Linked DNA regions of Homo sapiens. The protein of the gene in region 1 purifies or fractionates together with the protein of each later gene. This does not show direct contact. Each region holds a gene or a part of one and is shown on either strand. Other genes may lie near its edges.

Region 1 (3,232 bases):
TGACATAATGAATGTGCTGTTCTCTGTGCTCTGAAAGTGTATGGGGAGGCTAAACAATTATCTTTGAGGTTTGTTAGTACCTATGAATTATTCATCAATCTTAGAGTTTCTAAAATTATTCTCACAGAATTATCATCTAGTGGGCAAAGAGGTCATCTTGTCTGATCACACCCAAACAGAATTATCCTTAATACTCATCACTTAAACAAAAACAATTGGAATAAAAAGACAGAACACTACACTGTTTATGTATTGTGTCCAATATTTACACACCATAGAGAGATATAGATTTTACAGAATCTAAATATACAAAATACCTAATGGTTTAATTTGATTAAATAACAGTAGTGAATATGCACACGAAGTGAGTTCCATGTGTTACCAAATTGCAATTGACTATGCTTTACATGTTTTAAAAATCATCACTTTTGATGAAACTTGCTCTTAGATTCAGACTAGATGTCTGTATAGTCATCATTTTTAACACTGGCAGCATAGTAAAGTCAACTGGGGAACTCTTAAAAGAAATGTATGTCTAGGGCCACACCACCGAAGACACCGATTTCCTGGCAATTGGTTTGGGAGAAGGCCCAGACATCTGTATTTTTAAAGTTCTGCGGGGTAGTCTAATGTCAGCCAAGGTTGAAAATCACTGCTTCACGTAGTATAGCTAGATAAGTGAGATAGAGAGGTCTCCATGTGCAGCTTCTATTTTGAAAGTCAGTCATGATTCCTCATTTTAGCAAGTTCTCTTTTTCTTTACCTCCTCTTTCCATTCAGAATTGAGTTCAAATATTTCTTTACAGCCATTTGTTTTCTAAGGCGGGTATAGTTGTCAGTGAAGACTGCATCTGAGTGACGTTTGACTGGTACAGGGTCTTCTGAGATGTTACTGCTAAGGAACATGAGGAAAAGGAAATCAAAGAGTTTTCACAAGAAATGATAAATACACACATGTTCCAGGTTTCTTGGAGCCACATAAAAAGCAATTCCCACCCAACTAATTTTCTATCATAAAAAGACTAAAAGAAAAATACAACTAAACCTAAGGATGAAGGAAAGCAAGGAATCATCTGCCATATTTTGGCATGGCCTGGGACTGTTTTATGACACATTCTGTACAGCTGAGCAAATAATTCATCCAAAAATAAAAATTTGGGAATAGCTGAAGTTGTGCTCTGCCATTGGGAGAAATTTTTTTTTTTTTTAAAAAAAACATAATTACTTCTTTAGAAGCTATGCTACCCTGAGCAACGTCATCTAAATATTTGACTGTTGGCCATTTGGAATTCTCCATTTAATTTGAGCAGGAAGTAAAAAGAATATTCTGTTTGACCTTAAAATTTACCTCAGTCTGTACTATCTCTTTTTGATTGTTTTACTGAGTCTTGTTCAATTTGATTGCAGATTGCTAAATGATTGCTACTTGAGAAAAATGTGTGTCTGGAGTCAATGAATATGATATTATGAAAAAGTCTTAGTCCATGGGCTTGATAGATGTTATTGAAGAATACAAGTTATTTCATTTAACTAAATTAAACATTATCAACGAGTTTTCAATTTCAAACAAAGTAAATAACTTGTTAAGAGTGAAAATACAATATTCAGATTGAATAATGATAACATATTTTATAAAAATAATAAATTCTCTTTACCTAACACGTTTTCCCATAAGAGACTCAAGGTACTTTTTGGCAGAAAGTTGACCCAAGAGTTTACTGAAGTCACTGGTGAAAACTCCATCAGCATGCCTGGCATTTCTAAAACAAGGAAGAAAAAAATAGCTATTATTTTGTAAATGGCTTTCTAGAATATTATTATGGCTTATTAAATAACAAAAAAATTATGGGCTTATTATGAAAGCTTCTCATTAAAACTAAAGTTCAAAAGGAGATTTCTTAACACCCTAACAAAAGAGATCTTCTAGTCACTTATATCAAGATATACCCTATATTTCTAGCCCAAGACACTGAAAAATTAAAGAAACAGGCATTTCTAGGAGCACATTTCAATATTCCTCCATGGTTGAATCTTTATAACTATTTCTTTCTAAGAAATATTGGTGTAAAAATATGATCTATTTAAATTAGCTGCTATTTGTACATGGTGCTTTGTGTCTGCCCCACTGAATAAAGACATTCACAATGGGAAAATATTCTGATTTTGGAAAGTTCATAAACCCCAGTACACCTTTTTTTTTCTTTTTCCAAAATATTTGGAAACAAAATCTCTTAAGATAGAGAAGGCATTAAGGCCTATCATCCCACCTTTTCTCTTTCAAATGAAGCACCTTTTATACTTTGTCTGTACCAAGTACTATAGAGCTACTTGGTCTGTACTTGAAATGATGCTCTAGACAAACAGCTCTATGAATGAACAGCTCTATCAGGTATCTTTTCTTTATATAGAGACAAAACTCCTTGGCAACTCTTCCATCATTGGAATGCTAAATGCTGTACTTTTATCAGAATTGGTACAATCTGTGATGTTGGAATTATGTGCAACAGAATGGAAGTGAATGGTGTGTTCATCCTGGCTTGTTACAACCTTTCAGTATGAAAATTATGTACAGCTGTAAGATCTGCAGTAAATCAGGATGAATGAAGCCATGACACATAGAAACCTCTAGTGTTTTGCTATCGGAATAGCTTCATGGTGAGATAAAATAAGCACGTTTATAGTTCTTAAACACATTTTCTAAAATAAAACTCATTGGATAGTTTTATAAAAATAAACTCACCTGGATACATCATAATAGGGTGTGTCATTTTCAGCTAATGCATTTTGCAACATGTCAATGTCTTCTTTTAATGAAACTTGATCAGGTTCATTTGCTCCCTCAAAGGGTATTCTGTCACCCAACCTGATGGGGAAAGTTACACGAGAATAATACATTCTTTTTTCAGAAGACAGTGTGTATGGTTCCGCAACCATTTAAAATAAGATACTTAGACTCTTGGGAAGTATTACCCAGTCATAATATGAGAATAGCATAATTTGACTTAATGGCTCATATAGTTAATGAGAGTATAAATAGGAAATTCCTATTATCCTATAAAGTAGATGCCATATGACTTTTATAAGCTGAATATACAAAACACAAGAGCTACTTAATTCAATCTTATCAGAGCATTAAGCAAACTATACTTCTTTGGTGTAATTTACTATGCCAAGAATATCTTCACTTTGCAAAGTCAAATTTCGTATGTAGAAATATTTTATGCAAAATAGA
Region 2 (3,500 bases), on another chromosome or scaffold:
GCTTGAAGGAACATTAAATTAACTCAAGTTATAAGGTGACTATGACGTCCTTTAAGTAAAAATGATCTGGGAAACCCAGTTCATATAATGATCATGGAAAGCCAATGCAAATATTTTTATAAGATTAATTTTGGTTAATCAAACCTGGAAAGTTTGGTACTATTTTCCATCATTCTCCCACAGATATAGTTTTTATATAGACCCATTATATTGGGGGGGGGGGGTGTTACTATGCTCACAGAAAAAACTCACAGAGAAAAATACACAAAATAATATAAAAGATATCACTCAGAATCAACAGATGTTGACATTTTTCTCTAAGTCTCCTTCTTTCCAAATAGTTTTTCAGATATAGTTCAAGTCCTACTCCTCCCATCCTTTTCCCATCTACCCAGACACAACAGTTCATATGATTCTCATAATCTGCTTTATCCTTCCACATTGGACTCTATTATTAAGCACTTATTTTAGCATTAAAAAATGCAGCCCCCAGTTAGCTGTATTTTACTTAGTATTAAGAAACAAAAGACAAAAATCTACAATGCATTCTCTAATGTCTTTAAACAAGATTTAATCCATAGACGTTGTAATCGGATTTGCTTCGAAATAACACTGAGGAGGAGGGGAAGGGGAAGGATCCGAGACACAAATTAGCCATGAACTGAGGAGTGTCAGAAGTGGATGATGAGCATGCAGGGCTTCACTATACTATTCTCTTGAACTCAGCCTACATTTAAAAAGTTCTCTTTATAAGAAAGCTGATGTAGCCCTATAAGAAATAAACTGACATAAAAATATTCCAATATATAAAATGTTAACAACACATTTCCCTAGGAACATTTACTTCTAAAAGTAGAAATTATATAAATGGTTTAATTATGTATCATCTGATGCCAAAGAACAGTGTCTAAAATATTTGAAGCTATTTGAAATAACTTAGTTTACCATATAAATTAAAACTGACCCAAGACTAGAAGCTAGCATATGACAGGAATAAACTGTTCCCTCCACCCATAGTGCTGTGATTTACAGGCTTTAAATAGTTACTTCTCTTTATTTTTCTTCTAATAAGGACAAGAGAGGGGAATGCAGTCTATTGTGAAAACAGAGAAGGCAGAGGGTACGCATCTCAATGGACTGGCTGGGGAAAGCTTTCATGATCAGAAAAACGGGCACCCAGGAGGCGGCCAACGCTGATGGCCATCAGGCATTTGTGAACAGCATTTCTAAGAACTAATACTGTGGACGAGGGGCATCAATTAGATGGAGGAAGTGCTGAATTTCTTCCCCCATTTCATCCTGAAGTCATTTAAGTATATATTCTGCAAATGTTTATGGTCTAGGTGTTAGAATTTGCTTTTTAAATTAATAGTGAGGGGATGAGAAAATAAGAGGTTCCCCTCACCCTAGCACCAACCTCAAAAAAGTTTTAATCACAAATTTTTATAGACTACGGCTACCCAGAAACTAAAGTATCTCCTCAGTCACTCTAATGATTCCCTTTAGACTCAAGACCCCAACAAAGTCCAAACAATTCACAGGAAAAAGTTTTTCATAAGAACAAAGAGAAAGCACCCAACTCATCATAAAGGATTTCAAATTCTGGTAGAGTCATTACTAACTTTTTTTTTTTTTTTTTGAGACGAGTCTCGCTCTGTTGCCCAGGCTGGAGTGCAATGGCGCGATCTCGGCTCACTGCAAGCTCTGCCTCCCAGGTTCACCCCATTCTCCTGCCTCAGCACCCCCGCCCCAGTAGCTGGAACTACAGGCACCCGCCACCACACCCGGATAATTTTTTTGTATTTTTAGTAGAGACACGGTTTCACCATGTTAGCCAGGATGGTCTCAATCTCCTGACCTCGTGATCCACCCGCCTCAGCCTCCTAAAGTGCTGGGATTACAGGCGTGAGCCACCACGCCCGGCCTGTCATTACTAACTTTTAATCCTCACTCAACTTTTCCTGGGCCAGGCATAGTGGCTCACACGTGTAATCCCAGCACTTTGGGAGACTGAGCGGGGCAGACTGCTTGAGCCCAGGAATTCAAGACCAGCCTGAGCAACATAGGGAGACCCAGTCTCTACAAAAATGTTTTTAAAAAATTAGCCGGGTGTGGTGGCACTCACCTGTGGTCCCAGCTACTCAGGAGACTGAGGTAGGGAGGTCGAGGCTGCAGTGAGCTGTGATTACACCAATGCACTTCAGCCTGGGCGACAGACATTGTCTCAAAAAACAACAAAAAATGTTCCCTTGGCAAGTAAACAGTAGGAGAGGAATCTCCTTCCAGCCATGTGGATTGCTGGGAAGAAGGCAATATGCTAATGGTGATCAAGTAAGAAAGTGCTCTCCTATAGCGTATCCTGGAATGGAGACCATCCTTTGAGTATTTTGTATCTGCAGTTTGAGATACTCTGTGTAGTTTACAAACACTTAAAAAGGAGGAATAAATTAACATTTATTGAGCACTTGCACTCATGATGTATGTGAAGTTATTTAATATTCATAATAATACTATAATAAAAAATTGCTATCTCTAGTTTGCTGCTGAGGAAAATTCAATTCAGTGTTAGTAACCTGCCCAAGATTACGAGACTGAGAAATGACAGAAATATTACCTGACCTAAATCCAATGGTATAGCAGCCCATTCTTTTCACTACAAATTGGAGGTGTAGTAAACAAAAAATTGCTATCAGAGAATCTTTCAGAGAATCTAAAAACTGCAAGTGACAGTAAAAAAGTAGAGTTTACATTCTGTATAGAAAAACAAAAGTCCTTTTTACAAGTATCTCTGTTAAATGATTCCTCTCCTAGGCTACAGGATATGTGCAACAGGTACACACAGTGGGCACATGGAAAGAAAATATGTATACTTACCATTGGTAGACAATAAAAACTGAGCAGCATTTTTCTGGGGTAACCACCTAATTTTGTTGATCTTTTCTTCTATTTCTAAACTTTTCAAGTAGTCAAACTCTGGTTCATGGCTCTGGAAGGTGCTGTAAACATTATATTCTCCTCTGCTATGAGACTGGATTTTGTTCTAAAATGAAAACAAAAATATATGGACCATTGTTGAAAAATATTTCAAAATAATCAAATATGTAATCAATTCCAAAGGACCCTGCACATTCTCAATACCCCATTAGTTGTGTCTTTATACAATTACATTCTGTTTTTTATATTTCTAAAGGCCTTCAAGGATTAAATGAGAAAACTTAACGGGGGAAAAGGCTAAATAAAGCTGAATAAATAAGCTCAATTCATTAGGGAAATAATGACGTTAAATATGGATCAATTTGATTGCTAATTTACTCTTATGTATTTGATGGTATAGTCTATGAAAAAAACTGATGAAAAAAAACTGAGCACCCATAATAAGGAAGTTCATCTAAAAATAATGATAAAGTCTTGCCCAGAAAGAGCTAGGTGAGGCACACCTTCTTCCTATGCCCACTTTAGGGTCAACTCCCCGATCTGTTATTTAATATGATGTATTGTCC
Region 3 (3,500 bases), on another chromosome or scaffold:
AGGCGGGCGGATCACGAGGTCAGGAGATCGAGACCATCCTGGCTAACAGGGTGAAACCCCGTCTCTACTAAAAAAAATACAAAAAATCAGCTGGGTGTGGTCGCGGGCACCTGTAGTCCCAGCTACTGGGGAGGCTGAGGCAGGAGAATGGCATGAACCCAGGAGGCGGAGCTTGCAGTGAGCGGAGATCACGCCACTGCACCTCCAGCCTGGGCAGCAGAGCGAGACTCCATATCAAAAAAAAAAAAAAAAGATTCACAGACTCATCATGCTTAGTACAGCCACATCTTAACGCTCAGGAGGCTGGCCTGGTCATCGTTACATCGTGAAGTTAAGTTTACAAGATATGTGGTGGTATTGAATCATACCTGGTGATTTTCCACGTTCCCTGATTTTAAGCAGTCTGCTGTTCTGATGGGAAGTTCCAGGTTGGGTTTGTGTCTGCTGTTTTCAACTCTGAGGGCCCCTTTCTGAGCTTCAGCTCGCTTATCTAGAAGTTAAATCAGAAGCTTTTTGTTAAGATCAAACAATGTGCAGTGCTGTTGCAACTTGAAAAGTGCTTTTCAAGTATTAGATACAACTGTTAATTCTCTTGTATTTTAAAGTATTGGGGCTTGGTTTTAGCTATATTTAAACACAAAAATAGCAGTTTCTTGTTTTTCCTTACCTGCTTCATGTCCATCTACCCAGATCCCTTCCACTGGGCCTGGCCTCTTAATGTTTACGTTATTATTCAGTGATTATTCCCATCCCTTGATCTTTGCTCCTGTTTCTTTCTTTGCCTAGAGTATTTATTTTGCTTCCTGTCCATTCCCTAAGCCCTGCTGATCCTTCTAAATCCACCTCCAATCCCACTTGGCGAGTCCCTGCTCCAGCTCCCCTCAGCGTTCAGTGTCGTCTTAGACTCCAGATTTCCCTTTCACACTGTGTTCCATGTTGTTTAGCAATTGGCTGTGTCCTGCTTGTGGTTCCCTTATTTTATCACATGTATTATTAGGCTCGTCTCTCCCACTGGATGTCAGTCAGCATATGGAATGTCATGATATTACCAGGTGATGGAGAGGAATTGTGCACGTGGAATTTGGTACACATCCCTTTTTCACCCTCTTCAGGCTTTGTGTTAACTTGGGAAGTTACTTACTCTTTTCTCATCTGTTAAACGGGTACTATTACTTGTGACCATTACAGGGTTGCTGTGAAGATTCCAGAAAATGTATGGAAAGCTCTGACAAACAAACACGTTAACTGGTAACTGTTCAGAGGCTGTTGTCTTAAGAGACCCTCTTGCATAGGAAAATAGCTGACTCTGTCACTTCAGGGAGCCAGTTTAAGAAAAATGAAGGGTAATGCAGGGGCCAGCTTTCAGCTTGGCACATCTGAAAAGTTCACGACAGCATACCAAAGGGCTGCTAGTGCTGGCTGTTGGAAATAGAAATGCAGTTCTTGCCTTCAGGAAACGCTGTTTGGACACAGACAAGCAGGTGGGTCCTTGCACCATGGCTGGACCAGAGCACACTGAGGCAATGTGAAGAAGTACCCAGTACACAGACTTGGGTAGGGAGTGGAGGGGAGGACATCAGGGTATAAGAAGAGGGAGGAAGGGAAGGGGAGGAGAATGTTCCAGGTGGAGAGTGCTTGGTGTGGAGGTTGGACAGAGCATGGTATGTTCTGAGAGGTCAGTGCTTGGCATGGTCCTCTGGCAGAAAAGGGAGTGGCTGTGATGAGCAGGAGGCTGGCTGGGGCCACAGGATGATGAATAAAGGACTTGAATCGTGTGCTCAGGACTCTGAGTGATTGTGAGCTTTTCAGATCCTAAGCGGAGGAGCGACATCAGCTTTGTTTTTAACAAGGTCACTCTGCCCTTTGGAGAGTGGATGGTGGTGGGTAAGAATGGAGATAGGAAGTTACTGCAATAATAAAGATTGGGAAAATGGGCTTACTCTAGTTTCGGGGTGGCCAAGCTTTTTTGTAAAGGGCCAAATGGTAAGTATCTTAGACTTTCAGGCCATCCTGTCCCTGTTGCAACGACTGAATTCAACTCTGCCTTTAGCAGGAAGACAGCCATAGACCCTGCAGAGATGGATGGGCGTGGCTCTGTGCCCTGCTTCCACAGGAGCATGCCTACAGAAAACAGGCAGCTGGCCAGATGTCGCCCAGGTTGTGGTTTGCTAAACCCTGACCTAGAGTTGGTTTGCAAAGTCTTTTGGTGCTGGAATAATTTTATACTCTTAATAGTTATATTGAGGATCCAGAGAGCCTTTGTTTGTGCTGGTTATCGCTGTTGATGTTTTCTATATTTGAAATTAAAACAGAACAACTTACAATATTTATTTTACTTTAAAAGAATCTACTACATGTTAACATAACCTTTTTAATGAGAAACAACTTTTCAAAAACAAAAAGATTAAGCAAGAAGAACAGTGTTGTTTTACACTTTTGCACATCCTTTTAAAATATGAGGTTTAAGAGGTGACGGCTGGATTCTCAGACCTGCTTCTGCATTCCGTGTGTTCCAGTTGCTTTATTGAAATGTGTAAGGAAAATGTGGCGTCACACTTCCATGTGGGCAGAAGAGGGGTCATCCTGGAGGCTCTTAGCGATGCACCATAACTCGCCAGGTGGCAGCGTGTTTGAGTGTGCCGGCCTTTCGGAGTCAGTGACGTTTCTGTACTCTCTTCCGTCAGAACCCTGAGGTCTGTCTTGTGCTCAGAGTGGGTCTTTTGCTCATGGACATGATTTGGTAACATCACACGGGGGTTGTTTGGAAATATTGTTACATGGAGTTGTTTTTTTTTCTAAATGTTAACACATTCCATTATGTAAACTTGAAGAAAATCCTATTTTTTAATGTCATCACTGATCTCATCAGAAGAAAAAGTGAGAAACTGTCAAATTAGCAGTAGTAGAGAAAAGTTTTCCAAAATTCTAATTTTCTCTTGAAAGCTTGGATTTTATCATTGGTAACAAATACTGTCAGTTACTTTCTGTGAAGTGAGGGACGCAGTGTGTTCATTTTCAAGTCAATTTCTGCCAGATACCAAATTCTTAATAACCAAAGTTGGTCAGTTGTTCTTTCAAATAAAAATGGCATTCCATGAAAAAAAGGGCTAGTTCAGCTTGTGTGATACTGTGGAATATGTATTTGGTCTTCCCTAGTACACAACTCCTAAAATCCTCGGGCTCGTCAGTGATGTCTTCGTAATGCGTTGGCTAAGGGCCGGCAACCCCTGGGTAGCTTCAGAACAGGGGCTGGTCACCAGAAAGACCTAGGCAGGATTAGAAGGTTGGGACTTTCAGCCCCGATCCCCAACCTCGGGGAGTGGTGAGGGGTGGGGGAGCTGAAGGTTAAGCTGATCACCAGTGGCCAAACAGTCTTGCCTATGTATGGACTGGGTTTGAAGATAGCTTCCAGATGTTTCTGGAGGGGGGCCCACCCAGAGAGGACACGGGAGCTCTGTGTCTCAGCCCCCGTCCCTCGCCCTGTGCATCACCTCAGTGTC
Region 4 (3,500 bases), on another chromosome or scaffold:
CATATTATTTTAAGTGCCAGTTCATAGGCAAATTATGAGCAGATTTATATACTGACCTCCCTAATCCTCGCATGATTTGTAGAAGAAAACAAGTGAAGCCCCATTCTCTAACTATTATACAATAGTTGGGTTACTGGTTTCATACCTTTAGGTGTTATTGTATAAGCTCTAGTCTCTCCGATGTTGTTTTTAGATTGCTAACTCAGCTACTATATGTTGGTTATTAATTTTTAGAATAAATTATTTGGTGACCCAATTAAAGAAATTTGAGATGGGGTGGCGAGTAGCTAGGATCAAAAGTTACAAATGGATTTTGTTTTCATTTAGATGCCGCCGAATCCTCAAATGGCTGTAGCAACAACATGAATGCCTGTCAGCAGATTTGCCTGCCTGTACCAGGAGGATTGTTTTCCTGCGCCTGTGCCACTGGATTTAAACTCAATCCTGATAATCGGTCCTGCTCTCCATATAACTCTTTCATTGTTGTTTCAATGCTGTCTGCAATCAGAGGCTTTAGCTTGGAATTGTCAGATCATTCAGAAACCATGGTGCCGGTGGCAGGCCAAGGTATGCCAACTCCAATATAAGTAAGATTTGACTTCATCTGGCACCAGGTTGAAATCCCTGGTGCCATGAAAACATTTCTTCATGTGTGGATTCAGTGCATAATGAAGCTTTCCTTTCCCTTTAAATCAACTGGCACAGCCTAAAGTGTTTTTCAAACTTTAGTGTGTCTCAGAATCACCTGGAGGGCTCACGCCAACACAGCTCCAGACCTCGTCCCCAGATTTTTCTGATTTTGTAGTCTAGGGTAGGGCCAGAGAATCTGCACTCCTAATAAGCTCCCAGGGCATGCTGACGGTGCTGGCCCATGGATCACGCTAAGAACCACAGGCCCAGAGCAATATAGAATGTAGGATGGGTTTGCAAGAAGTACTACAGAGTTGGTGTTCCAAAGAACTGTGCCCTATTTCTGATTATTAATGGAGATTTATGGTAGAAGGTATACTACTATTTAATATGGTAATGAAATAGTCCACAAATATGATTTATTAATATATATTTGGTGAATTGAAGCAAAAGAGTTCACAGTGTCAGTCCCTCTTTAGTAATCATATTTTTGCAGCACTTTGTGCTTACATACTGTGAATGTATGAAACGATCACTTGCTTCCTAGATGAGCCAAGGTTTTTAGGTATACCTTAGCACAAGAGGAACTAAGAGTTTTCTAACATCGCTAGGAGAATGTCACAGGCTAAAGAGAGAAATAGAGGGTAGAAAGGAAGGAAAAAAGGATGAAGTCAATGAAGGGGTTGTAGAGATGGTCAGAAAATACAGAAATGCACCTGGAGAAGGGAATCAGAGAGCTTCCAGTCCCACACGTCCTCCTGCCTGATGGTCATGTTCACGTGGACCCATGACTCATCTTTGTTTTTCCATATCTAAAAAGTTATGGATCTAAGTTATCATCTTGTACAGATATGACAAATTCAATAGTTTTTTTCTCCCAGCTTTTCATTAAAAAAATGTTCAAACACAGAAACGTTGAAAGATTTAGGAAATATCCTTATACCCTTTACCAAGATTTAACAGTTGTTAACATTTCTTCACATTTGAGCTCTCAATTTGTATGTGTGTGTGTGTACATGCATATGCATTCACATTCATTTTTTATGAACCTTTTAAAAATAAATTTTAATACCATGCCACTTTACCCCTACATATGTTAGCATACAGTTTCAAAGGGCATTATGAAATATTCATAATCATATTTCTCCAGTTGGCCTCACAATATTTTATATATAGCTGTTTTGTTCCATCCAAGATCTAATCAAGATTCATGCACTGCACTGGGAATATCTCATTAGTTTCTTCCAGTTTGGAGTAGTTGCCTCTAGCTTTTTGCTATGACATTGATGTTTTAAAGAGGCAGACCTGTTGTCTTTGAGAATCCCACACTGAGGATTTGTCTGAATATTTAGTCTGTCTTTCATTTTTTACCCTGCAGTTCTCATGAAATGGAAGTTAGGTCTAATTGCTTGATTAGATCAAGGTTAAATACATTTAGCAATAATACTTTATAGGTTATGCTGTGTTAGTTGATACAGAATCTTATTAGGAAGAACATAATGTCAGCTTGCCCTGCTCTTAGTGGCATTTGAGTTTGATCACTTGGTTAAGGTGGTCACTGCTACACTGCTGCTTTTTAAAGCTGTATTTTTTTTCCTTCTTAATTTTGGTGGAATCTATGCAATCACACTTAGGCCCTGTGAATGTCTTGGCTCCCAAGCACCTTTTACCCATTGGTTTTGGCAGCCATGGATGATCCTTGTTTGAAATGATTATTTAATCGAGGATTGCAAAATGGTGATTTTCTTATTTTAGCATTCCCTTTACATTTGTTAGATAATATTCTTCTATAAAGGAAAGCTCTTCGTGTCTCCCCGGTTTACTTTTTAAATAATTTATTATTATTATGGGCTCAAATTTTTATTTTTTAAATTCAGTGTGTTACAGTCAATTACTGTAATCCTTCTTTTGATGTTTTAGTGGATCCATTTTGGCCAGGGAGAACCTCTTCAAGTGGCGACCTGTATATTTCTGTGTATGCCTTGTTTCTTGGTACAATAAGATGTTTCACACTCACTTCGTACCTTCCCTGCCTAAACCTATAATCAACATTTCTCCCGGGAGCCAGAGCTCCTTATTGTGGGAAAGAGTAGAAACCAAGATGTGGGTCTGCTCACTGCAACTGGGAAAAAAGGGTTTCATTTTGTAATGGGGAGATGCTCAGAGCAGGGGGTTGGGAATGAGGGTTTGAGAGGAAGGGCAGACATTTAAAAGTTCTAATTTCAGTGACAGCATTTTTTAATGATCTTTTCTTAACTTCCAGGACGAAACGCACTGCATGTGGATGTGGATGTGTCCTCTGGCTTTATTTATTGGTGTGATTTTAGCAGCTCAGTGGCATCTGATAATGCGATCCGTAGAATTAAACCAGATGGATCTTCTCTGATGAACATTGTGACACATGGAATAGGAGAAAATGGAGTCCGGGGTATTGCAGTGGATTGGGTAGCAGGTATGTAAGCTATATGGTGATTTTAATATGTTTGCATCTCTGTCATCTTATTTTATGCTAGAAAGTTTAGCCTAACTCCATGTGCTACAGGTTTGTTTTTCTAGACAATTATTAAGACCATTTAAGATACATTGAATCTAGATTAAGCTACGTGTCTATTTGATAAATGATACGGTGTTTCAGTTTACAGATTTATAACAAATTAATCCTTATCATTTTCTTCTGTTATTAACATAATCTGGAGACAAAAGTGGCTAAAATATTAAATTATGTGGATTTGTTTTTTTTACACTTAGATTTGCACCTGATTTCTGCATTAGAAATTTTCTAAATTTTCAAGAGAAAGAGATATAAAAATATAAACTATGGAACAGCATTCATTTGCTTTGAAGCTGAGCAATTTTAGTTGCCAAATTCT
Region 5 (3,500 bases), on another chromosome or scaffold:
TGTCACCACGCGTCCAGGAGGGTCAGGACACAGCAATCTGAAGAGCAGCATAGCAACAGGCCAGTGCCACAGTGTGCCCCTCACTCATACAGGCGGCAACCCCTGCGCTCCCACCTAAAGTGGGCTGGTAAACAAGTAGTGCTTTCTTTCCTTGTTATTAAAATCCACACTGCAGGCTGGGTGTGGTGGCTCACGCCTGTAAACCGAGCGCTTTGGGAGGCCGAGGTGGGTGGATCACTTGAGCCCAGGAGTTCGAGACCAGCCTGGGCAACATGGAGAAACCCCATCTCCACAAAAAGTACAAAAATTAGCCAAGTACGGTGGCATATGCCTGTAGTCCCAGCTACTTGGGGGGTTGAGGTGGGAGGAGTGCTTGAGCCTGGGAGGTTGAGGCTGCAGTGAGCCGAGATGGTGCCACTGCACTCCAGCCTAGGCAATAGAGCAAGACCCTGTCTCAAAAAACAAACAAAATCCATACAGGAATATATTGTTATAAATCTTTGTGACCTTGGATTGGGCAATGGTTTCTCATGTATGATACCAAAACACAAGTGACCAAAGAAATTGATAAATTGAACTTAATCAAAATCTAAATCTTTTGTGCTTCAATGAAGACCATCAAGAAAATGAAAAGATGGCCGGGCATGGTGGCTTACGCCTGTTATCCCATCAATTTGGGAGGCTGAGGCAGGTGGATCACCTAAGGTCAGGAGTTCGAGACCAGCCTGGCCAACATAGTAAAACCCTGTCTCTACTAAAAATAGAAAAATTAGCTGGGCAGGCCGGATGTGGTGGCTCAGGCTGTAATGCCGGCACTTTGGGAGGCTGAGACAGGTGTATCACCTAAGGTCAGGAGTTCAAGACCAGCCTGGCCAACATGGTAAAACCCCATCTCTACTAAAAATACAAAAATCAGCCAGACGTGGTTGCGTACGCCTGTAGTCCCAGCTACTTGGGAGGCCGAGGCACGAGAATCGCTTGAACCCCAGGGGTGGAGGTTGCAGTGAGTCGAGATCACGCCACTATACTCCAGCTTGGGCAACAGAGCAAGAATCTGTCTCAAAAAAAAAAAAAAAAAAAAAAAAAGACAACTCACAGAATGTGAAAAAGTATTTGCATGTTTCTAAAAGTCTAGTAGCCAGAATATATAAAGAACTCTTACAACTCAACAACAAAGATAATCTGTTTTTTTTGTTTTTTTTGTTTTTTTAGACAGTCTTACTCTGTCACCCAGGCTGGAGTGCAGTGGTGTGGTCTCACTCATTGCAATCTTCGCCTCTCAGATTTAAGCCATTCTTGTGCGTCAGCCTCCCGAGGAGCTGAGATTACAGGCACACACCACCATGCCCGGCTAATTTCTGTATTTTTAGTAGAGACAGGGTTTCTCCATGTTGGCCAGGCTGGTCTCGAACTCCAGGCCTCAAGTGATCCGCCCACCTCAGCCTTCCAAAGTGCTGGGATTACAGGCATGAGCCACCCGCGCCCGGCCCAATCTGATTTTTAAAAAGACAAAGAATTGGATACTTTTCTCCAAAGAAAATACACAAATGGCCAAATATCATATGAAAAGAGGCTCAGGCCAGGTGTGGTGGCTCACACCTGTAATCTCAGCACTTTGGGAGGCCAAGGTGGGCGAATCACTTGAGGCCAGAAGTTCGAGACCATCCTGGCCGACATGGTGAAACCCCGTCTCTAATGAAAAAAATACAAAAATTAGCCAGGCGTGGTGGTGCACGCCTGTAGTCCCAGCTACTCGGGAGGCTGAGGCACGAGAATCGCTTGAACCCAGGAGACAGAGGTTGCAGTGAGCCGGGATCACATGCCTGCACCCCAGCCTGTGCGACAGAGCGAGACTCTGTCTCAGAAAAAAAAAAAAAAAAAAAAAAAAAGAGGTTCAATAACATTAGTCATTAGGGAAATGTAAATTAAAACCACAATGAGATACCACTTCACACCCACCAGAACAACTAAGATTTAAAAAAAAATGGACAAGAAGTGTTAAGCAAGAATGTGGGGAAATTAGAACCTATACACTGCCGATGGAAACGTCAAATGGTGCAACAACTGTGGAGAACAATTTGTTAGTTTCTCAAAAAGTCAAACATAGTTACCATATAACTCAGGTTCCACTTTTGGCTATATATCCAACAAAAATGAAAACATAAGTTCACACAAAAATTAACATACAAATGCTCATAGCAGCATCATTTGCAATGGCCAAAAATGGAAACAAACCTAACATCCATCAACTGCTAATAAATAAACATAATGTGGCATATCCAAATAATACACTATTACTCCGTCATAAAAGGACCAATGGATTCATGCTACAATATGAACGGACCTTGAAAAGATAAGGCTAAATGAAAGAAGCCAGTCACAAAAGGCCACACACTGTATGATTCTATTTATATGAAATGTCCAGAACAGGCAAATCCATAAGGACAGAAAGTAGATTAGTGACTGCCAGGGGCTGGGGGACAGAGGGATGGGAAGCTCCTGCTAACAGGTACAGGTTCCTTTTTGGGCTGATGAAATGTTCTGGAATTAGATAGTGGTGATGGTCGCTCAACTTTGTGAATATACTAAAAACTACTGAATTGTACACATTAAAAAGTTAATTTTATGGTATGTAAATTATATCTCAATTTTTAAAAATCCACACCATGGCCAGGCGTGGTGGCTCATGCCTGTAATCCCAGCACTTTGGGAGGCTGAGGCAGGTGGATCACGAGGTCAAGCGTTTGAGACCAGCCTCACCAACATAGTGAAACCCCGTCTCTACTAAAAATACAAAAAATTAGCTGGGTGTGGTGGCGGGCCATCTGTAATCCCAGCTACTCGGGAGGCTGAGGCAGGAGAATCACTTGAACCTGGGAGGTGGAGGTTGCAGTGAGCCGAGATCGTACCACTGCACTCCAGCCTGGCCAGTAAGAACGAAACTCCGTCTCAAAAAATAAAAATAAAAAAATTCACACCATAGCCAAATAGGGTTCCCTGGGTCCACCCTATCCAATGTCAGCAACACAAGAGGCAGAACACATGTGGAACAATTTCAGAGAGGATACAGACAGTATAAAAGTTAAGAGAAACATTCCCCAGAGAGCTCCCAGCCTGGAGAAAAGGCTGACAAATCTTTAGGCCCCAAATGAAGATCTAATCCAGTGGTTTTCAAGTGGGGGGCAATTTTGCCCCCCAGTGGGACATTTGGCAATGTCTGGAGACATCTTTAGTTGCCATAGCTGGGTGGGGAAGTGCTACTGGCATCCAGTGGGTAGAAGCCAGGGTGCTGCTAAACAATGCATGGGACAGCTCCTTACAGAAACAAATTATCCAGTCCAAAATGTCAACAGTGCTATGGCTGATCAACTGTGGGTTTAATCCAACGATGGGTTCAATTGCTTTTTTAAATCCTAGGATTTATATAACCTAGGGACCTGTTTGATAATACTAATTCCAAATATGTCAAAACTTCTACAAGTAGCGGAGCCTGCCTCAAA
Region 6 (3,500 bases), on another chromosome or scaffold:
GCAAAATATTTTAACTATAACTTTTAGTGCTGGTGAAAAAATACTACTTATCGTCATAACAACATGTATTTCTAGGAATATTATTCCTAAATTAAGGTGAAAATGTGAATAGTCTTTGATTAAGTAAGGCCCACAATTCTCTTCATTTTACTTGTTTCAGTGCTGAATAAACATGGTCCTGAGGCTTCTCAGAGTCCACAGGAAAATAGAAAAAGTCCAAACTATTAGGAAAATCTTTCTTTGTTTTGGGATATCTTACGGAAACTCATCAGGTCAAAAACACTTTTCCAGAACTCTAAAGTACCACCTATGAAACAGACTGATAGGATAATTCAGTTCTACCTTTAGTGAGTTTCCTTTACAAAAGTCTGCTCTGAAAGAGTCTGTGAATTAAGTATCAAACTACTTTTAAGGAACTGAACTATTTGACAGCGGGGGTGCTGCCATCTGCCCCCAGCTGGGATGGTGAGCTGAGGCTTCTGGGCTCATTCCTTATAGCTAAAAGCAGGTACCTGGTTATTTGTCCAGGACCTGCACTAAGCTAGGTTAATAAAGAAAGATGATGAGGAGGACAATGAAAAGAAGGTTGAAGTAAAGAGTTTCTGATGAGGACACTAGTTTGGAGCAGGACAGACTGCTTGTTTGGAAGGGAATAACCAGCACAAGCGCCCCCCTCCCCTTGTATTTCCAGCTGCAGTTCCCCTTACCACATACACATACCCCATAGGTCCTTACCGTAAGTACTACGCCACACGGTACGTAAGCACAGTGAGCCTCTACTACTTAGCCAGGTGCTGAACATTCTGGTTCTTACCTTTATTTCAGAGGCTGCAAATTCAAATGCCCATAGGAGCCAGGTGGGCCATGCACATGAAGAAGTGGGCTTCATGGGGACTGTGGCAAACCAGAGAGTGTCTGTCCTGTCTAAATAAACAGGTGCTACTGGGGCCAACCACCTATTGCTACCTGGAACATAGACCCACTATAGCCATTTTTAAGAGAAGCCAGAAGCCACTTTCCCCAATTTTTGAATGTTGGCATTAACACACACCTATGCACATGCACACACACACTTCGCAGACCTAACAAAACGCCTTTGCAAGCCCATCAGTGCCACAGGGCTGCCTACTTGCAATCTCTGCTGTGTGGGTTCTTTTCGTTTCAGCTTGTACAGATCTAGCCAGGTAAGGTGGCAACAATGTCAGGGCTTCAACCTGGCCTTCAGAATGCTCCAAATTTCACAATTTGGCGCCAACCCATCTCTCCCAACTTTCCCCTCTGGGAAAGTCAGCTAGACTGGCCTGGCCCTTGCAAAATGGGCCCCTGAAACAAGCCAGGCCTCTTTCTTCTGTGCTACGTGAGGCTTCCCCTTTATTTGGAAAGGCTTCCTCTTTATTTACTGTAATCCTATCCAATCATTTGAGGTTCAAGCTTAATCCTACTCTCTGATTTTTCTTTCACCACTCAAAGTGAAAGTGAACTTTTCCTTCTCTAGAGCCCTGTAAGAATCACATGACACTGGTATCAAGGTTATTTTTTCCCATTTATATGCCTGCTCTTCCTATCTAGATGGCGAACTCCAGGTGGCAAAAGACTGAGAATAACAACGACAGGCTGAACATGAGGGAAGGAAGGTAGCTAGGAGCCCCCACTACTGACCATGGGCTGCTGGTTTCTTTACATGAATTGATGAGTGTCTAACAGGCTCTTCAACATAGGTGCTGCTGCAGAGAAATGCTGAGAGCCAACAAGATAGGCAATTTTACAACCAAAGTTTCCTAGACTTTATTAGTTATTTGCTTTTAATACATTTATAACTTTACTGTGAATATTATAAAATATTATCCAAATTATTTTTCAACTAATTTCAAAGATTCACTGCATGAATTCTTTAACTTGTACTAAGAGAAAAAATCCTTAAGAGTAAAGATAAGTGGTCGGGCACGGTGGCTCACGCCTGTAATCCCAACACTTTGGGAGGCTTAGGTGAGCGGATCACTTGAGGTCAGGAGTTTGAGACCAGCCTGGCCAACATGGTGAAACCCAGTCTCTACTAAAAATACAAAAATTAGCCAGGCGTGGTGATGCATGCCTGTAATCCCATCAATTTGGGAGGCTGAGGCAGGAGAATTGCTTGAATCCAGAAGGTGGAGGTTGCAGTGAGCCGAGACTGCGCCATCGCACTCCAGCCTGGGCAACAGAGCAAGACTCTATCTCAAAAAAAAAAAAAAAAAAAAAAAAAAGTAACGATAAGTGTACTTTATCCTCCAAATATAGGTTAAGAAGACAGGTGAATAATAGAAAGCTGAAGCTAATGCATTTTAGGATAATAGGTGGGATGAAATTTGTTTCTAAAACAGAAGCACTTACATAAGTAGCTGACATTTTACAAAGTGTTTGCTATGTGCTAGGCACTATTTAAGAACTTTACATATTAGGCCAGGTGTGATGGCTCATGCCTGTAATCACAGCACTTTGGGAAGCTGAGACCAGCAGGATCACTTAAGGCCAGGAGTTTGAGGCTGCAATGAGCTATGATCACGCCACTGCACTCCAGCCAAAAAAAAAAAGAGAGAGAAAAAAAAAAGAAAAAAGAGAACTTTACATATTAGCTCATTTAATCTTTAAAACAAACCTAGGAGTTAAGTATTTCCACATTACAGATGAAGAAATTAAGGCATGGCTCAGTATGGTGTCTCAGGCCTGTAATCCTAACACTTAGGGAGGATCACTTGAGGCCAGGAGTTTTGAGACTTGCCTGGGCAACATAGAAAGACCCTGTCTCTACCAAAAAAAAAAGAAAGAAAAATAAAGAAATTGAAGCAAACAGCAGCTAGGCAAGTTGCCCAAGTTAGTAGTGAGCCTCTTGGTGGTGAGTTGGGACTCAAACCTAGGGAGTCTAATTCCTAAGTCAGGTCTTACCTACTTCGACACAAAGGGCTCTAATGGATGAGACAATAATTAAGGAACGAGATCATCTAGTCTAGTATTTATCAATCTCATATTAAAGATATACCACATTTATAATATGTCAAGTAAAAAGGATTCATATGATTACAATATACCGCTCTTTTCAGAGACATTGAATAGAATTAGATAAATGAATATTATCTGCTGGCAGCAAATTCACTACCACTCAACTGGCCTTTGCCCCTTTACAGATGTATTTTCCAAGTTACCGATAACCCTTTGTCCTGTATCTACAGACTCTAATAGCAATCAACAGACAAGCCTAAAGTGCTTTCACTAACTTCTGAATTCTTACGGCAAATTAGTCCATGCAGAATCAATTTACTAATTTATACCCTCTGGTGTCTTCAGGTATGTGAGCTGTGTCTCTCCTGACTGGCCTGACCTCGAGGCCTGGCACCATGTCTTCTACTGACCTGCGGGTTTCAAGTGCTGAGTGTGCTTCTACAAGTTAGATTTCAACATATATATGTTGATTTGGTCGATTATACAAATCACATTTCATACAAAATGAGTTGTATCAACAACCA
Region 7 (3,500 bases), on another chromosome or scaffold:
CCCAGGCTGGAGTGCAATGGCGTGATCGCGGCTCACCGCAACCTCTGCCTCCCAGGTTCAAGCAATTCTCTTGCCTCAGCCTCCCGAGAAGCTGGGATTACAGCCACACGCCACCACACCCGGCTAATTTTGTATTTTTAGTAGAGATGGGGTTTCTCCATGTTGGTCAGGCTGGTCTCGAACTCCCGACCTCAGGTGATTCACCTGCCTCGGCTTCCCAAAGTGCTGGGATTACAGGCGTGAGCCTCCGGGCCCGTTCAGGCAGTTCTTTATAGCAGTGCGAAAACAGACTAATACAGACCTCAATCTCATACTACATGTAAAAATAAATTCCAGATGGACAAAAGACCTAAGTGTACAATGAAAAACCTTAAATCTTTCAGTAGAAAACATATAAGCATTTTTTTAAACCAAGGTGAAGAAGATTTCTTTAACAAGATACAAATAATACAAACTGTAGAAGAAAAACTACATTTTTAATTTAAAATCGTTTACAACAAAATTATATATTTCAAGGTAAAAAGACAAGACACAAACTAGAAGATGAAATTAAGTATTTATACAACAAAGGATCAGCATCTAGAGTATGTACAGCATTCTTAAAACTCAGTAAAACAGAAAAACAAAACAGGCAAATAATATGAACCAGCAGTTCACCAAGAAAGAAGCCCAAATGGCCCCAAAACATATGAAAAGATGTTCAACTTTACTAGTCAAGAAAATATAAATTTTAAAAAGATGTTTGTATCCAACAGATTGGTAAAATATTATAAATTTATATATATAACACCAAGTGTCTTTTGGTTTTTTTTTTTTTAAGTTCTGAATTACATGTGCAGGATGTACAGGTTACATAGGTAAATGGTTGCTGTGGTGGTTTGCTGCACCTATCAACTCATCAACTAGGTATGAAGCCCAGCATGCATTAGCTATTTTTTCTGATGCTCTCCCTCTCCCTGCCCCCGACCCAACAGGCCCCTGTGTGTGTTGTTCCCTTCGTGGTGTCCATGTGTTCTCATTAACACCAAGTTTCAATAAGCAGAAAAACAAGACCTCAAATTCCTGGTGGGGCCAGGCGTGGTAGCCCATGCCTGTAATTCCAGCACTCTGGGAGGCTGAGGCGGGAAGATCACCGGAGGTCAGGAGTTCGAGACCAGCCTGGCCAATATGGTGAAACCCCCATCTCTACTAAAAATATGAAAATTAGCTAGGCATGGTGGCGGCCGCCTGTAATCCCAGCTACTCAGGCGGCTGAGGCAGGAGAATTGCTTGAACTCAGGAGGCGGAGGTTGCAGTGAGCCGAGATCGCACCATTGCACTCCAGCCTGAGTCTGATGGGGACAGAGCGAGTTTCCATCTCAAAAAAAAAAAAAAAAAAAAAAAAAATATATATATATATATATATATATAGAGAGAGAGAGAGAGAGAGAGAGAGAGAGAGAGAGAGAGAGAGAGAGAGACAGTGCACACAGGAATTTCAGGAAAATGGTTAACGTCTGGAGAGGAAAAGAGAAAGGGAAAGGTGGGTTGACCTTTCTTTGGTTTTTTGACTAAAAGCAACTCTAGAGCAAACATGGCAAAAGGTTAATATCTATTCATCTCAATGGTAAGTACAAAGGTATCTGTTATACTACTTTTGTACTTTTCTGTAAATTCAAATTGTTTCATAATTGAAAATAGTTTTAACTGAGTTTTATAATGATTTAAAAATTAGGCCACGCACGGTGGCTCACGCCTGTAATCCCAGCACTTTGGGAGGCCAAGGCAGGTGGATTGCCTGAGGTCAGGAGTTCCAGACCAGCCTGACCAATATGGTGAAACCCCACCTCTACTAAAAATACAAAAATTAGCTGGGCATGGTGGCATGCACCTGTAGTCCCTGCTACTAGGGAGGCTGAGACAGGAGAACCGCTTGAACTCAGGAGGCAGAGGTTGCAGTGAGCCGAGATCATGCAACTGCACTCCAGCCTGGCAACAGAGTGAGACTCCATATCAAAACAAACAAACAAACAAAATATGAATATTTTAGGTGTAGTATTGGTATTGTGGTTTTGGGGGAGTTGTTTGTTTTTTGCTTTCTTTTCAAGAGATGAGGTCACTTCATGTTGCTGAGGCTGGAGTGCAGTGACTATTCCCAGGTGTGATCATAATCCACTGCAGCCTCTTACTCCCAGCCTCAAGCAATACTCCCAACTCAGCCTCGGGAGTAGCTGGGACTACAGGTGCGAGCCACCATACCTGACATTATTTTTTAATTGTGGTAAAATATAAATAACATAAAATTTACCATTTAAAACATCTTAAGTGTACAGTTTTAGTGGCATTAAGTACATTCACATTGTTTTGCAACCATCACAACCATCGATCTCAAGGACTTTTTCATCTTCCCAAACTGAAACTCTGTACCTGTTAAAAAAATAACTCCCCAATCTCCCCTTCCCTTGGCCTCTGATAATCACTATTCTACTTTCTGTCTGTATGAATTTGACTATTCCGGGCACTTCATATAGACCGAAGCATACAAGCATTTGTTCTTTTGTGCTGGGCCTATTTCATTTGGCATAAGGTCTTCAAGGTTTATCTACATTGTAACATTCTAATGTGTCAGAATTTTATTACTTTTTAAGGTTAAATATTCCATTGTACGTATATTCCACATATTGCTTACCCATTCATCTGCTGATGGACATTTGAGTTATGTTTTAGAGTTCACATCTCTTTACTGAGATGCATACTCAAATATTTTTAAATTAAATTATAAGGTATCTGATATTTGCTTCAAAATAGTCCTGGCTGGGACGAAAAAGCAGTGGGACAGGGAGATAACAGATGAAATGGGATATAACTTTTCACTTATGAGAGCAGCAAAGATCAGAAACACTGATACCACCATATATACTGCCAGAATATGGGGAAACAAATTGTTTCATACATTGTTGGCAGGAATGTAAATTAATTTCTTTGGAGGGTTCTATCAAAGTTGAATTTGCAAATTTCCTTCAACCAAGATATAACTTCTAGGAATGTATCCTCATACATAAGCTCACACACATATGAACAAGTGTATACAAGAATACTGACTGCAACAATGTTTACAACAGCCCAAGTCTGGAAACAATTTAAATGTCTATCAGTAGGGACTGACCGCAAAAATCATAGTACATTACAAAAACATGGAAATACAATGAAATACTATTTAACTTTAAAAATGAAGCAGTTCTACTTTTGAGATAGTATCCATAAATATGTTAAGGGGAAAAAAGCAAGCTACTGAAGAGAGTAACACTATTCAACCAGACATTCACGTGGTTCAATTTCTGGCTACCACAGATCAGAAAACCTAAAAACCTCCCACAACACAGGCCAGGCACCACACTGTGGCTCACGCCTATAATCCCAGCTCTTTGGGAGGCTGAGGCAGGTAGACTGCTTGAAGCCAGGAGTTCAAGACCAGCCTGGCCAACATGGTGAAATACCATCTCTACAAAAAATACAAAAAG

Evidence for each region.
Region 2: the proteins of VIP (region 1) and PPP2R2A purify together in Homo sapiens (co-immunoprecipitation; one large-scale study listed by IntAct). This does not show direct contact.
Region 3: the proteins of VIP (region 1) and PPP2R2D purify together in Homo sapiens (affinity purification with mass spectrometry; 2 studies listed by BioGRID and IntAct, with this or other methods). This does not show direct contact.
Region 4: the proteins of VIP (region 1) and LRP2 purify together in Homo sapiens (affinity purification with mass spectrometry; 2 studies listed by BioGRID and IntAct, with this or other methods). This does not show direct contact.
Region 5: the proteins of VIP (region 1) and NISCH purify together in Homo sapiens (co-immunoprecipitation; one large-scale study listed by IntAct). This does not show direct contact.
Region 6: the proteins of VIP (region 1) and TNRC6C purify together in Homo sapiens (co-immunoprecipitation; one large-scale study listed by IntAct). This does not show direct contact.
Region 7: the proteins of VIP (region 1) and UBR3 purify together in Homo sapiens (affinity purification with mass spectrometry; one large-scale study listed by BioGRID and IntAct). This does not show direct contact.

Annotation. Positions count from the first base shown.
Region 1 is NC_000006.12:152,753,797-152,757,028, reverse strand, and holds part of VIP (VIP peptides isoform 1 preproprotein), read right to left. Parts: intron 2,864-3,232; coding exon 2,741-2,863; intron 2,154-2,740; exon of another isoform or gene 1,761-2,153; coding exon 1,656-1,760; exon of another isoform or gene 896-1,655; coding exon 764-895; exon of another isoform or gene 1-763. UniProt on the Homo sapiens protein: PHM-27 and PHV-42 are two bioactive forms from proteolysis of the same precursor protein, that cause vasodilation. PHM-27 is a potent agonist of the calcitonin receptor CALCR, with similar efficacy as calcitonin.
Region 2 is NC_000008.11:26,354,008-26,357,507, reverse strand, and holds part of PPP2R2A (serine/threonine-protein phosphatase 2A 55 kDa regulatory subunit B alpha isoform), read right to left. Parts: intron 3,041-3,500; coding exon 2,875-3,040; intron 1-2,874. UniProt on the Homo sapiens protein: Substrate-recognition subunit of protein phosphatase 2A (PP2A) that plays a key role in cell cycle by controlling mitosis entry and exit. Involved in chromosome clustering during late mitosis by mediating dephosphorylation of MKI67.
Region 3 is NC_000010.11:131,907,508-131,911,007, forward strand, and holds part of PPP2R2D (serine/threonine-protein phosphatase 2A 55 kDa regulatory subunit B delta isoform), read left to right. Parts: intron 1-3,500. UniProt on the Homo sapiens protein: Substrate-recognition subunit of protein phosphatase 2A (PP2A) that plays a key role in cell cycle by controlling mitosis entry and exit. Involved in chromosome clustering during late mitosis by mediating dephosphorylation of MKI67.
Region 4 is NC_000002.12:169,209,035-169,212,534, reverse strand, and holds part of LRP2 (low-density lipoprotein receptor-related protein 2 precursor), read left to right. Parts: intron 1-327; coding exon 328-567; intron 568-2,893; coding exon 2,894-3,082; intron 3,083-3,500. UniProt on the Homo sapiens protein: Multiligand endocytic receptor. Acts together with CUBN to mediate endocytosis of high-density lipoproteins. Mediates receptor-mediated uptake of polybasic drugs such as aprotinin, aminoglycosides and polymyxin B.
Region 5 is NC_000003.12:52,462,104-52,465,603, reverse strand, and holds part of NISCH (nischarin), read right to left. Parts: intron 1-3,500. UniProt on the Homo sapiens protein: Acts either as the functional imidazoline-1 receptor (I1R) candidate or as a membrane-associated mediator of the I1R signaling.
Region 6 is NC_000017.11:78,087,703-78,091,202, reverse strand, and holds part of TNRC6C (trinucleotide repeat-containing gene 6C protein), read right to left. Parts: intron 1-3,500. UniProt on the Homo sapiens protein: Plays a role in RNA-mediated gene silencing by micro-RNAs (miRNAs). Required for miRNA-dependent translational repression of complementary mRNAs by argonaute family proteins.
Region 7 is NC_000002.12:169,833,954-169,837,453, reverse strand, and holds part of UBR3 (E3 ubiquitin-protein ligase UBR3), read right to left. Parts: intron 1-3,500. UniProt on the Homo sapiens protein: E3 ubiquitin-protein ligase which is a component of the N-end rule pathway. Does not bind to proteins bearing specific N-terminal residues that are destabilizing according to the N-end rule, leading to their ubiquitination and subsequent degradation.